Linked DNA regions of Homo sapiens. The gene in region 1 interacts genetically with each later gene. Each region holds a gene or a part of one and is shown in the gene's direction. Other genes may lie near its edges.

Region 1 (7,564 bases):
TTTCCCTTAAACTTGAATATGTCACTTATTCACTTCTGGTAGTCAAAGGCTCCCAGTTCCTGTCCTCAGCAGCACAGCTCCTTCCATCCTGCTGCTAAAACAGTTGACAGTGAGATTTACCAGTTCACATCAGGGTGAATTAGGTTAATACCTTCTTAAAACTCAGGCTTAGGGAAGGAAGTGATATGTATTAACAGATCAAAGCCTGAATATTTCTCTATAAAATGTTTATTCTGTAGTTTTTTGTAGTAATTTTAGTTTTCCATTACTTTTACGATAAAATCCAAACCCCATAGTAATGACACAGAACGAAGGCCATACCTTATATTTGAAGTGCTCTTTTTTCTTTTTTCACTACTTTTCTTCTTAGCTACACCTCTAGATCTCGTCCGCTCAAGGGTTACCTGTTTAAAGTGGAGTTTTCACCTCCACAGGCTGAATTAGATATTATTTCTCTGTACTCGAATAGCATTCACCACTGTTAACAGCACTTACCAGTGCTGAAACATAATTGATTTCTTGCCTTCTTGACTAAACTGACCTCTATGCAACTCAAAGAACACATCTCAATCATCTCTGTACTCTCTACCTATCAGAGTTTAGTGCACCGTAGACACTCAGTAAATAAACAACTAAATATTGAATTTGTGATGTTACTGAAAACTCCTTTAATGAAAAGCATTTAACACCATAGGGAAGACTGAACACCAGGAAAATTTACTTGCATGACTAATTATCGTGTTCTCTTTTTAAACAATAATTGCTTGTTTTTCTTCCCAAGTATTTATGCGCTGCCAGTTGAGCCGATTACAGAAAGGGCATGCCACAGATGAATGGTTTCTGCTCAGCTCCCATATACCATTAAAAGGTATTGAACCAGGGTCCCTGCGTGTTCGAGCACGATACTCTATGGAAAAAATCATGCCAGAAGAAGAGTACAGTGAATTTAAAGAGGTATTAAATTATTTATCAGTCTTGTTTTTGTTGGAATTAACAGAAACATTTAACATTTAATAAAAGATCCATTAAGGTAAACATAGTAATTCATAGCTTAGTAGCACAATGATGCCAGAGATTTTAAACCTTGTTTTATACTGTAATTTTGGTAGAAATAAGTAGACTACGAATTCATTCTATTTTAAATAAATTTATTCAATGGGACATCATTTTAAATATAAGAACTTGTGAAAGAACATATTTCTTGTTAGTCTCATGGAGCATGCTTATAATGCTACGTACTTTAAACAATCTTTTAAAATGTCATTTTAGCTTATACTGCAAAAGGAACTTCATGTAGTCTATGCTTTATCACATGTATGTGGACAAGACCGAACACTACTGGCCAGCATCCTACTGAGGATTTTTCTTCACGAAAAGCTTGAATCGTTGTTGTTATGCACACTAAATGACAGAGAAATAAGCATGGAAGGTATGGTATGGCCATGTTAGTGTGATACAAGAAACTGGGTTTAGATTTTATATCAAGGATATATGGACTCTATCTCTGAATATACTAAATTGTTAAATTATATTGCAAAATAAGTTATTCTGTTTTCCCTCCTTAAAAATTGCAGTTGGATGTCAGTTCTGATTATGTTGGTTACTATGGGAAGCTGATATTTCTAATGTAGGTTTTGGCAGATAAGTACTAGAAGCCACAAGAAGGTGGTATCTGTGTCTACATCAATGGCTTGACTGTTTGGCATATTTATCTGTATTCTCTTGTTTTTTATTTTCTTTTGAGATGGCATCTCAGTCGCCCAGGCTGCAGTGCAGTGGCGCAGTCTCGGCTCACTGCAACCTCTACCTCTCAGGTTCAAGCGATTCTCCTGCCTCAGCCTCCTAAGTAGCTGGGACTACAGGCATATGCCACCACACCCAGCTAATTTTTTATTTTATTTTTTTAGTAGAGACGGGTTTTCACCATGTTGGCCAGGCTGGTCTTGAACTCCTGACTTCAGGTGATCCGCCTGCCTCAAGCCTCCCAAAGTGCCGGGGTTACAGGTCTTGTTTAATTTTTACTTCTTCATTACACAGAAGCTGGGTGTCAGCTGCATTTTATTTCTAACTTTTATAGATAGGTAGTTCCCAAGCTGCTGGACACAGTGCTTTTAATGGCTTACAAAATAATCCACCCTCCCCCTGGCCCACACACACCACCAAGCACTTTGATTCATTAACAGTTCTTGCTTCTAGGTTCCCCAAATAAATAGTAAAGTTTAGAACTATTTTCCTCCTCATCACAAAATATAGATTTGTCAAGGAATAGATAAAATGGTGGTCCTTATTTTACACTTGAGTTTATCTTTTCTGACAGCATTTGTATTTCATTAAAATTTTACTGAAACTCAGTAGACATATTTTAAGCTAATAAATTAATCTATACTGGGATTTTGTGTTATATCCTTAATTGTAAATAAACCCTAAAATTTCAAAGCATGGGGTCAATGGGCAGCAAAGCTGATTTATGGTCCTAATTTTATCATTAGCTGTCTAATTGATCTTAAGTCATATAACAATTCTGAGTCTTCATTTTTCCATATGAACATGGCAGTGTTAATCCCTTCTGTTCATGATCTAATGAGGTAATACATATGAAAGTCTTACAGAGTTAAGTCTGTAGAAGTATAGGATGTCATTGTAATTAGTACTTTCAACGCTGCACGCAAAAAGCACATTTAAGTGGCTATTCCTGTTGAGGTAAAATGAATTCACTTAATTTCCAATTTGGTCACATTAGGTCAGTCCTTTACAAATAATCTTCTAATGTAAATATTTGTGTAGATGAAGCCACTACCCTATTTCGAGCCACAACACTTGCAAGCACCTTGATGGAGCAGTATATGAAAGCCACTGCTACACAGTTTGTTCATCATGCTTTGAAAGACTCTATTTTAAAGATAATGGAAAGCAAGCAGTCTTGTGAGGTAAGAATTTAATGTTTTAATAAGTATTTTTGCAAAGAACATATTTTAATAGGTAATAATTTGTAGCCAATTACATTTTAAGGAAAATATATTAAATTTCTAAAATTATTCCTCATAGCAGTTACACCTGTCTGTAATACATTTATAAAAATGTTCTGCAAAATGGACTTCTTAAAAAAGATGTACTTTATTTTGGGATTAAAAACCATCAAGTTGCACCAGAAATTCATGAAAATACTTTGTCATTTCCTCTACTGTACTAATAATCTATATACTACTTACAGAAAGCGTGCATAAGATAAATTGAAGGTTTTGTTAGTGACTCATTATATAACCTATGTAGCACTTCATTACATCTTGGTTTGTTCTTGAAGGTTTTTTTGCGAGGGGAGAATTATGAGATAACCTCAACTAAAACAAAAAAATCTTTTTAGGATTATTAAAGTTTCAGTATAAATTCATAATACACTATTAAGACAGTAAGTGGAATCTCACACACATATTCTCTCATTTTAATGGTAAAGCAACTACAAAGAAATAATATATATTAGATCTGATATAAAAATCAGTTTAAGGAATTGTTTTTGACAATGGACACTGGGACCTAGCAAATGTTAATCCTGCACGAAGGTGTCGATTCATACTAATAACTTGAAGGGAAGAAATTAGTGATTTAATGTTGGAAATGTGGGGTAATGCCATAGTTGGCCTAACATAAGGATGACACAGAAGTGCAGCAGGTAGGTAGGGAGTCTCTGGACTTTAGAGATAGGCTACGGAATTCCGACTTCCATAGATAAATGTACTCTGCTGACACTAGATCAGAAGGGTTACAGGAAAAGTTCTGAGAAAGGTTTGTGATTCTGCCTAAGGCATTTGATATTTTTATTAGCCATTAAATAAGCCTCATTCAGAAAAGCTTTTAATCAGCTTTTTTTCCCCTCAAATAAATAGAATTGACTAAGCACTGTTTGCTTTTCAGTTGGCTAATTGGGAATAAATGGTAACAGACCTACCAGGAGGAGTTCCATAGAGAAAACTACTTAAAAACTCCCATTATACAAAGAAAAAAGATCAATACACACAGAGATACCGAAAAATAGACAACCTCGAAAACTATAACTACTTGTTTTCCTCTATTCATTTGCATTTGTCATTGCCAACATGCATTTATATTGATTTATTCCTTCTTTTAGTTAAGTCCATCAAAGTTAGAAAAAAATGAAGATGTGAACACTAATTTAACACACCTATTGAACATACTTTCAGAGCTTGTGGAGAAAATATTCATGGCTTCAGAAATACTTCCACCGTAAGTGGTGAAATTTTCATTTGACAAGAAATTGTGTATCTATGTCTTCAGAAATTTCTATTTCTAAAACGTGAAAGCTTTTCTGTTGTCCTAATATTATTATACTCTGAAAAAGTCATGGTTAATCTTTATGAGATGAATTGTATTTAAAGAAAATAGCTGTCTTAATAAAACCACCCATTATTTTCGTACAAGCCAATATGTCTGGTTTGTACTGTAGTAGCTTGGGGAGTGAATAGAGGTTTATAGTTTCAGATTTGAGATTGTAAAAGATATCTTGTCTATCCATTTAGTCTATACTTGATAGACTAATCACTCTGTTAATATGCTTGTCGGCCTCCAGTATTAGTGAACTCACTTGTTCAGGTAGAAGTTAACTTAAGTCTAAATCTTGCTCCCCAGAATTTGCAGCTGGTTGGTTCTCTATATCTGAAAGTAAATGTCAGGAAGTTGACTGAATAAATTGATGATAAACTTAGTGGATAAAGTTTTCCTTACCCCTTGCTAAATGCCTCATTACCTGTGGCAAAATACTTTTTTGGGTAAAAGGCCAGTTTTATTGAACTGTGGTATATTTGGGTAAATTAAGCTTTTGGCTGCTAGGAGATCAGTGTTTTCACTTGCTTTCTGTGTTGAGATGATTGTGTTATTTTGGCAGGACATTGAGATATATTTATGGGTGTTTACAGAAATCTGTTCAGCATAAGTGGCCTACAAATACCACCATGAGAACAAGAGTTGTTAGGTAAGGCTCATCAATTGATTTGTTAAATCACATACTAATAGGTGGATAATTGTGAAAAATTGAGGAATAACAATATACAATTCAATGCTTTTTTCTTTGGCTTTTATGTCAAAGCCCTGTTGCATATTTTCTAAGTCCAGATGGCTCCTAAACTGAAAGTTACTGTGAGATTTAGCTGCCGTTTGCATTTTCTAAAAACATGAACATTCATTTATAGTCAAGTATTGGGGATTTTTAAACCCTTACAAGATGAGGCTAAAAGTTATATAACAAAATCTGTAGCTAACTTCATATAGTATTCTTCATACATACACACACATTGATTGGCAGTGAGAGAGAAGGGCAGTAATTGACCGATTTAGATATTAATTGGTTTGTTACAATCTGTGACTCTGAGCTAATCAGAACCAGAACATGTAGTTCTGAAGCTGTGTTTCAGTCTGCTCATTGTACCATAATTAGGAAGAACTGCTTTGGCAAATCATGGAATTTGGGAGCTTATATAAAGGGACTTCATTATCATTATTCTATAGGAAGAACTGCTTTGGCAAATCATGGAATTTGGGAGCTTACGTAAGGTTACTTCATTATCATTATTCTAACTTATTTTTCCAATGAAGAAGCAGATCTGTCTGGAGAGGTTAAGTTGAACTAAGGTTTTATAGAAAGCTGGTGGCTAAGGCAGAACTAAAGGTAACTTTCTAAGACCCAATCTGATATCCTTGAGTCTTATTGTAGGCTTTTGCTTTTGTTAAGCATACTCCAACTAATACCCCAACTAATTCCAGGCAAATGGAAGTTTAATGCGAAAGCGTCATGGAATACAGCAGTTTTCTAATAATATAATTTGTTATTTAGAATATACACTGTCATGTCATGCTATATGTAAAATAATTAGGCAACCATTAACACCATTATTACACAGTTTGTTTTGAAAATGTGTTAATCCTGCCTCCAACCTAAATTTTGTCAAGGGGCTTCTATTTCTTTTTTTGGGGGGCAGGTAATATTTCTCTTGGTTATGATATGACATAATATTTAAGAACTACAGATTCTGTTTTTCTTGGCATTAGTGGTGATTGGGAGGAATAGAAAAGAATTACAAGCATAATATTCCAGCACAGTTACGTGTGAGATGTAAATTAAAACTGTTCTATAAATTTGTAAGTTTCAAACAAGTATAACTGTTAAGCAAACACAGCAGGAAATTGTAAACTGTTTCGTGCAAGAGGGTGTTTTAGGGCATTTTTGCCAAGGTTAGGTTTCAGGCTCATAGACCTACTATGTATAATTATCACAATATTTTCAAGTAAAGTTTACAAGATTCTTTAAATTTGGGAAGTCCAAAATTAAAGACTTAATTGTTATTTTTTTGAGACAGGGTCTTGCTCTGTTGCCCATGCTGGAGTGCAGTGGTGTGATTTCGGCTTACTGCAACCCCCGCCTCCCAGGTTCAAGTGAGATTCTTGTGCTTCATCCACCCAAGTAGCTGGATTACAGGCATGCACCACCATACCTGGCTATTTTTGTATTTTTAGTAGAGATGGGGTTAGACCATGTTGGCCAGGCTGGTCTTGAACTCCTGGCCTCAGGTGGTACACCCACCTCGGCCTCCCAAAGTGTTGGATTACAGGCATGAGCCACCATGCCCAGCCAATATATTAGAATTTCTATAAATGCTGTTTGAGAAGTAACATCTTTACTTTCTAAGAGTCCAAAAATTAGCAAACAGGTACATGTTCAAAGGTAAATGCTAAGAAATTGGGTAATCCACTCTAACAGAGAACAGAGATTGTATCTATTAATCTATAGAAGGAATTGCGTAACTCATTATTTTGGGAATAATGCTTGTCTTTACATGGATTATGTCTATCAATCTGTAGAAGGAATTGCATAATTCATTATTTTAGGAATAATGCTTGTCTTTACATGGGGCAAGTAAGAGGTTAATTATTAGTGTGGATTCTTCTTAAAAGGAAATTAGAAATTATCTACATGACAACATATCCTCCCTACCAGTGACTAAAGGAGGCAGAATAGGAGTATCTATGCAAGCTTTTAACACTGACATTGTCCCAAAGTAAAATTAGCAGATAAAATCATATATGACAGCTGTTAGTATAATTTTTGCTTTTGCTATTGTTTTATAATTTGACAACTTTTTAAAACTTTAGAATTCCTAATGTCTTGTCTTAAAAGTTTTTCAGGCTGGGCATGGTGGCTCAAGCCTGTAATCTCAACATGTTTAGACCAAGACAGGAGGATTGCTTGAGGCCAGGAATTTGAAATTGTCCTGGGCACCGTAGCGAGACTCTGCTTTCTACAAAAATAATTAAAAAAAAAAAAAAATTGCCAGGTATGGTGATGTGCACCTGTAGTCCTAACTACTCTAAGCCTGAGGCAAGAGAATTGTTTGATCCCAGGGGTTCAAGGTTGCAGTGAGCTGTGATTGTGGGCCACTGCACTCCAGCCTGGGTGACAGAACAAAACCCTATCTCAAAGAAAACAAAGAAAAAAGGAAAAAAGAAAACCTTTCCAGTGTTCTATTATAGACATTTTCATTGATCAATAAGTCACTTT
Region 2 (7,564 bases), on another chromosome or scaffold:
ACCCTGCTATAACATGTCTGTTTATTCAGAGTCAGTTTTAAGAAAGGAAGATAGGCCGGGTGCGGTGGCTCATGCCTGTAATCCAGGACTTTGGGAGGCCGAGGCAGGCGGATCACGAGGTCAGGAGATCGAGACCATCCTGGCTAACATGGTGAAACTCCGTCTCTCTAAAAATACAAAAAATTAGGCGGGTGTGGCAGCGTGCGCCTGTAGTCCCAGCTACTCGGGAGGCTGAGGCAGGAGAATGGCGTGAACCCGGGAGGTGGAGCTTGCAGTGAGCCAAGATCGCGCCACTGCACTCCAGCCTGGGCGACAGAGCAAGACTCCGTCTCAAAAAAACAAACAAACAAAAAAGGAAGATATTGGCCAGGCGTGGTGGCTCATGCCTGTAATCCCAGCACTTTGGGAGGCTGAGGCGGGCGGAACACGAGGTCAGGAGATTGAGACCATCCTGGCCAACATGGTGAAACCCTGTCTCTACTAAAAATACAAAAATTAGCCAGGCCTGGTGGCGCGCACCTGTAGTCCCAGCTACTCGGGAGGCTGAGGCAGTAGAATCACTTGAACCCAGGAGGTGGAGGTTGCAGTGAGCTGAGATCGTGCCATTACACTCCAGCCTGGGTGACAGAGCGAGACTCTGTCTCAAAAAAAAAAAAAAAAAAAAAGGAAGCTATTTGAGCTAGCATCAAATAATTAGTGCACAGTACACATGGAAGAACTATCCTTTTAATCAAACGGGCATTTTTATTACTATTTGGCTTTGTTCTGGTCTTAACCTTTCCCTCAATTGTGAATCGCTAATGACAACTTTTATACAGATGTCATGATTTCCATGGTTTAAACAAATGTAAAATTAGTTTAAAATGCCAGAATGAAATGGATACTCTCACAAATTTGCTCATTGCTATACTAAAGTGCCTTGATAAAGAATTTTACAATAAAATCCTGTTAATAAGACTGCTGATTCAGAGATGACCATAATTCACACGTGATCGAGACTTAAAGCTTATTGTTTTACTTGTGAAAAAAGTTTAAGCAGAATGTTTAACTTTTAAAAACAAATAAATGATATTGAAAGCAACGGTTTACATTAACTTACGTGCTAATGTCTCTCATTCAGCTTTAGCAGGTCCTCAAGGACCTTTCTTAATACTTTTTTGGTTAACAAAAGTATAAATGGAAACTTGAAGAGAACCTAAGAAGAGAAATGAAAATGATTGAGGGAATATAGACCCCAAAACACACAAACACACACACACAAGCACGTTTAAGATAGGGGTTGAAAAGACATACTGAGGAGGAATTTGAACTTTATTTTTGTTTTCACCTTTGAGACAGGGTCTCACTATGTTGCCCAGGCTAGAGTGCAGTCATAGCTTGCTGCAGCCTCAAACTCCCAGGCTCACATGATCCTCCTGCCTCGGCGTCTCAAGTGGCTACAGGCACACACCACTATGCTGGCTATTTTTTTTTTCTTTTTTGTTTTTGTAGAGACAAGGGTCGCCCTTTGTTGACAGGGGTGGTTTTTGAACTCCTGGGCTCAAGGGGTCCTCCTGCCTTGGCCTCCCATTGTTGGGATTACAGGCGTGAGCCACCTTGCCAAGCCACGTTTATTTTTAAAAACAGGATAAATATATTCTTGTCCAGCCAATCCCAGAATCAAGTACAGTAGCTTGAAATAGATGAAATAATTTTAGAATGTATTGTTTTATTTATAGAGCTGATAGATAAATGAAACAGTATAAAGGGTAAATATTTGCTGTTTAACAGACAACCTCAAAACTTAGCTTAAAAAAAACAATTATTTTTCCCCTCAAATCTGATGGTTTTTCTGCTTCACTTGGTATTGGCTGAGGTGTGGGAAAGACCTTCACTTCTCCTCTATATGGGCCTTTCTCTACCTGGCTGCTTGGATTTCCTTAAAGTGTGGTGGCAAGGTTCTAAGAAGGGACATTCCAGGAGACAGGAGGTAGAGACTGCCAGTCTTCTAAATCCTAGATTTGGAAGTCCAAGAATGTCACTGTGGGTCAAAGCCAGTCAAGGCCAACTACAGAGGGAGGAGAAATAATGTCTACCTATTGATAGGAAGGGTGGCGTGCATAAACAAGGAAGGGGGAATTGCTGGGGGCCACCTTTTGAGACTTGCTACCGTAGGTGCTATGCTAGTTGGATGTTAAGGCTAAAAATAAAAATGGTATCGGCCAAGTTTGTGGGTCATAATGCTAGGAATGTTTAGGAGGCATCTCTTTTTTTGAGGTTAACTTCGGAAGGCACTAACATGATCTCCTGCGTGACTTCCCTTAATGATGTCACTGTTGACATAATACTGGGTGAATTAATGTGATTAAGTAAACTTGCTTACTTACTTCAGGAAACAGAGGTATCTAAACAGATTACATTTTAAAATAAATTGTCAGATGTTTCACTGTAATGGAATTTTCTTTACATCAGTGAAATTGATTACCAGGTAGTGGGATGAACATCTGAAACTAGTTCTTAGTTTAAGTTGTCTGAGTTTTTGTGTATACTTTACCTATTCCCAGTTTAAATTGGCTTTCAAACAGTTTGTTTTCTGGGTACTCTTATAGGTGTTGGGGTATGAAATTAGTGGTAATTCTTTTTGCCTATTTTCTTTTTTTTTGTCTGAGATACCCTGAGTCTCGCTCTGTTGCCCAGACTGGAGTGCAGTGGCACAATTTCGGTTCACTGCAACCTCCGCCTCCTGGGTTCAAATGATTCTCCTGCCTCAGCCTCCTAAGTAGCTGGAATTACAGGCGTGTACCACCTTGCCTGGCTAATTTTGTTGTATTTTTTTTTTTTTGAGATGGAGTTTTGGTCTTGTTGCCCAGGCTGGAGTGCAATGGTGCAAACTCAGTTCACTGCAACCTCTGCTTCTGAGGTTCAAGTGATTCTCCTTCCTCAGCCTCCCCTGTAGCTGGGATTACAGGCATGCACCACCACACCCAGCTAATTTTGTATTTTTGGTAGAGACAGGGCTTTTCCATGTTGGTCAGGCTGGTCTCGAACTCCCAACCTCAGGTGATCTGCCCGCCTTGGCCTCCCAAAGTGCTGAGATTACAGGCGTGAGCTGCCGTGTCCGGCCTCTTTTTGCTAATTTTCTAAATTTATGTTTATAGTAGATTTTCATAAATTATCAAAAGTGAATTATTAGATGTGGAGTAAAAATTCAACTTTGAGTAGTTTTAGAAATTATTTATTGCTAAATTAGAAAATAAACTTTCAAAAGAGATCTCTTTTTTTTAAAAAAACTTAATTGAGACAGGGTCTCACTCTGTCACCCAGGCTGGAGTACAGTGGTGCAACCTTGGCTCACTGCAGCCCCTACCTCCTGGGTTCAAGCAATTCTTGTGCCTCAGCCTCCCAGGTAGCTGGGAATACAGGCATGTGCCACCACGCCCAGCTAAATTTTGTGTTTTTAGTAGAGACAGGGTTTCACCGTGTTGCCCGGGCTGGTCTCGAACTCCTGACTTCAAGTGATCCGCCCACCTTGGCCTCCCAAAGTGCTGGGATTACAGGCGTGAGTCACTATGCCTGGCCTAGAGATGGGATCTGCTTTTTTTTTTTTTTTTTTTTTGAGATGGAGTCTTGCTCTGTCACCCAGGCTGGAGTGCAATGGCACGATCTCAACTCACTGCAACCTCCGCTTCCCAGGTTCAGGCAATTCTCCTGTCTCAGCCTCCTAAGTAGCTGGGATTACAGGCACCTGCCATCATCCCTGACTAATTTTTGTATTTTTGTAGACGGGGTTTCACCATGTTGGCCAGGCTATTCTTGAACTCCTGACCTCAGGTGATCCGACCGCCTCGGCCTCCCAAAGTGCTGGGATTATAGGCATTAGCTACCGCGTCTGGCCTCTAGAGATGGGATCTTGCTTGCTCTGTTGCCAGGTTGGCCTTGAACTCAGGCTAGGGTTAAGTGATCTTTGTGCCTCGGCCTCTCCAGTAGCTGGGACTACAGGTGCGTGCCACCACTCGCAGCCTAAAATACTTTTTAAATCTCACCTACTTTCTAGCAGTATTTTATTTTATTTGGGCGCAGCTCTGCCATCAGTAGGCTGAGCTCCCTGCAGCCTCAAACTCCTGGGCTGAAGCAATGCCTCTGCCTCAGCCTCCTGAGTAGCTGGGACTACAGGTTTGTGCCACCACACCTGGCTATATTTTTATTTTTTTGTAGAGATGGGGTCTTGCTGTGTTGCCCAGGCTGGTCTGGAACTCCTGGCCTCAAGTTATTCTCCTGCATCAGCCTTCCAAATTGCTGGGATTACAGGCTTGAGCCACCATGCCCAGCTTTAGCAATTTTTTTTTTTTGAGACGGAGTCTCGCTCTATTGCCCAAGCTGGAGTGCAGTGGTGCGATCTCAGCTCACTGCAACCTCAGCTTCCTGGGTTCAAACAGTTCTCCTGCCTCAGCCTCCCAAATAGCTGGGATTACAGGCACGTGTCACCACACCTGGCTAATTTTTTGTATTTTTAGTAGAGATGGGGTTTCACCGTGTTAGCCAGGATGGTCTCGATCTCCTGACCTTGTGATCCAACCGCCTCAGCCTCCCTAAGTGCTGGGATTACAGGCATGTGCCACCGCACCTGGCCAGCAATATTTTAATATAGCACAGAAGTCCTTTCTAAATGTGTATAGTGAGAATCCATTGAGGATGAAATAGAAAATATTTACCAAAGTTTAACAACTTAGTCAATAAAAATAAAACTTTCTCTTTCCGTAATAAGTCAATCTCAGCATTCTAAAATAGGCAATGGAGGGGGGAAGAAATCTCTATGGGAAGGGTCCACTGGATCTTAACAGTTTCAACTAGTGTTCCACAATATTTCTGCTGTACTTGGGGAGAATTTCTGGATAATTAGAATAGTCTGAGGCTTATTCCTTTTAGTTTCCCATAGCCTGATTGAGATAGAGCTATAAGACCAGCTATAACATTGTACAGAAGACTCAGAGATAAACAAGTGAAAAAGATAACTGAGATTAATGTTGAACTAAGAATATGATTGTTCTCTGAGGCACTACCTGCTAGTTCCTGGATTACCTTTATATGTGGCCAAGGTGGGGATTGGGAAGCAAGGGAGCAAAAGCCCTAGAGCTAAGGGAGAGAGAATTTCTGCCTGCCTAAGATGAACCTTCTGAGTTGGATATTTTTTTTTCTTCCCCCTTGAGACGGAGTCTCACTCTGTCGCCAGACTGGAGTGCAGTGGCATGATCTCAGCTCACTGCAACCCCCGACTCCCTGGTTCAAATGATTTTCCTGCCTCAGCCTCCCGAGTAGCTGGGATTACAGGCACGTACCACCACACCCAGCTCATTTTTGTGTTTTTAGTAGGGATGGGGTTTCACCATGTTGGCCAGGACAGTCTCGATCTCCTCCTTGTGATTCGCCCGCCTTGGCCTCCCAAAGTGCTGGGATTACAGCTGTGAGCCACCGTGCCCGGCCTTGAGTTGGAATTTCTTTCTAAAGTCTTGCTCCTTTCTGTAGTTTGGCTTTCCTTTCAGGGTATCTGATTTTGCCTTCCTGCTCCTAGGCTTGTGACCTGACCTGATGCTGTCAATTACAGGAGAATGCAGAGGTGCAAGAAATTTTTTTTTTTTTGAGATGGAGTTTCGCTCTTGTTGCCCAGGTTGGGGTGCAATGGCACAATCTCGGCTCACAGCAACCTCCGCCTCCCGGGTTCAAGCTATTCTCCTGCCTCAGCCTCCCGAGTAGCTGGGATTACAGGCATGCGGCACCACACCCAGCTAATTTTGTATTTTTAGTAGAGACGGAGTTTTTCCATGTTGGTCAGGCTGGTCTTGAACTCCCGACCTTAGGTGATCCGCCCGCCTCTGCCTCCCAAAGTGCTGGGATTACAGGTGTGAGCCACCACGCCCGGCCAGAAGAAATTTTTTGTGTTTTGTTAATACAGTCAGCCACGAATAGCTAACAGCTAACAGCTGGTCCCTCATATTTGTGGGTTCCATATCTGCTAATTCAACCATTGATTGAAAATATTCAGAAAAAGAGACCACAATAAAAAATAACAATATAACAATAAAAGTGGGAATTAAAAACAATACGTATAACAACTACTTACATAACATTTACATTGCATTATTATATGTAATCTAGAGATGATTTGAAATATATGGGAGGATGTGTGTAGGTTATGTGCCGTTTAAGGCACTATAAGAGACTTTTGAGTATCTGTGGATTTTGGTATCCGATGGGAGGATCCTGGAACCAGTTCCCTGCAGCTATGGAGGTTTGACTATAATTATTTAGCATGTACTATTTGCTGTTCTAAATATACTGTTCTAAGCTCTTTATATATATTATTTCATTTAATCCTCCCAGTAATCCTGTGAGATAGATTCAGTATTATTATTATCCCCATTTCTCATTTAAGGAAAATTATTCCAGAGAGGTTAAGTAACTTGCTCAAAGTCATGCTAGCAGGTATCCTGAGATTAAATCCAGGCAGTCTGACTTGAGAGCCTTACTTACGTGCAGTATACTTCCTCTTTGAAGAGCAGGAAAACTGTGGGATATGGTGGCATGTTTCCTTAATATCTGTTAAGGCACACTTTGGTAAATGCTAAAATAGAAGCACAAAGTGCTATAGAATTTAAGGGAGGGGAAGTTCGTTTTTGTTTTTGTTTTTGTTTTTTCTTTTTTTTGAGATGGAGTCTTACTCTGTCACCCAGGCTGGAGTGCAGTAGCGCAATCTCAGCTCACTGCCACCTCCACCTCCCGGGTTCAAGTGATTCTCCTGCCTCAGCCTCCCGAGTAGCTGGGACTACAGGTGTGCACCACCACGCCCGGCTAAGTTTTGTATTTTTTAGTAGTGCTGGGATTACAGGTGTGAGCCACTGTGCCTGGCCGGGAAGTTCGTTTTAACTGAAGAGCTCTTTAGCAGCTTTGTAGAAGAAAGCTTCATATTAGATCTTGATGAATAGATAGATTTTGACAGATATCTCTCTGAGGTAGGCAGTCAAGCGGTGGCCAGAGTGGAAGAATTACTGTCCAGATTTACATATAGGTTTCCTGATTATTTAAATTACCGATGAAGTGCAGTAAGACTCTACTGTTGTCACAGTATCATTTCAGTTAGCTATTGGCGTTTAGAATCACAAAATACCAGCATCTTACAGTGATAGGTATTTATTCTCTTGAAATTGTGGGTTTGCTGGGTAGTGGATGATCTAAACTTGGCTTACTCAAAGTCAAAAGCCCAAAGTCAAGCAGGGCAGGGAGTAACTTGCACAATACTATAGTGACAGTAATCTACTGCAGTGATCTAGTACAGTTGATTTAGAGAAGAATGGTAAGATGCTTATTATGACAACTATTGTGCTTTCTTCTTTCTGCTCTCTATTGTTGACACTCTCCTGATAGCACTTTTTCATTTTGGTTGCTGAATAATACCTGTTGATTGGATACTCCTAGAATCATAATGTAATACAGCAGATTTCTTCTCTTCATGTTATGTAGAAAAAAAGCATAAAGAAATAATCAGAATCTTGACTATTCCACAGTGATGCCCTGAAAAGTTCAGCAATAT

The links.
Region 2: of RASA1 (region 1) and BTRC, changing one suppresses a phenotype caused by changing the other (phenotypic suppression), as found in Homo sapiens cells (one study listed by BioGRID).

Annotation. Positions count from the first base shown.
Region 1 is NC_000005.10:87,375,612-87,383,175, forward strand, and holds part of RASA1 (ras GTPase-activating protein 1), read left to right. Parts: intron 1-781; coding exon 782-954; intron 955-1,269; coding exon 1,270-1,429; intron 1,430-2,784; coding exon 2,785-2,927; intron 2,928-4,123; coding exon 4,124-4,239; intron 4,240-4,897; coding exon 4,898-4,984; intron 4,985-7,564. UniProt on the Homo sapiens protein: Inhibitory regulator of the Ras-cyclic AMP pathway. Stimulates the GTPase of normal but not oncogenic Ras p21; this stimulation may be further increased in the presence of NCK1.
Region 2 is NC_000010.11:101,356,797-101,364,360, forward strand, and holds part of BTRC (F-box/WD repeat-containing protein 1A), read left to right. Parts: intron 1-7,564. UniProt on the Homo sapiens protein: Substrate recognition component of a SCF (SKP1-CUL1-F-box protein) E3 ubiquitin-protein ligase complex which mediates the ubiquitination and subsequent proteasomal degradation of target proteins. Recognizes and binds to phosphorylated target proteins.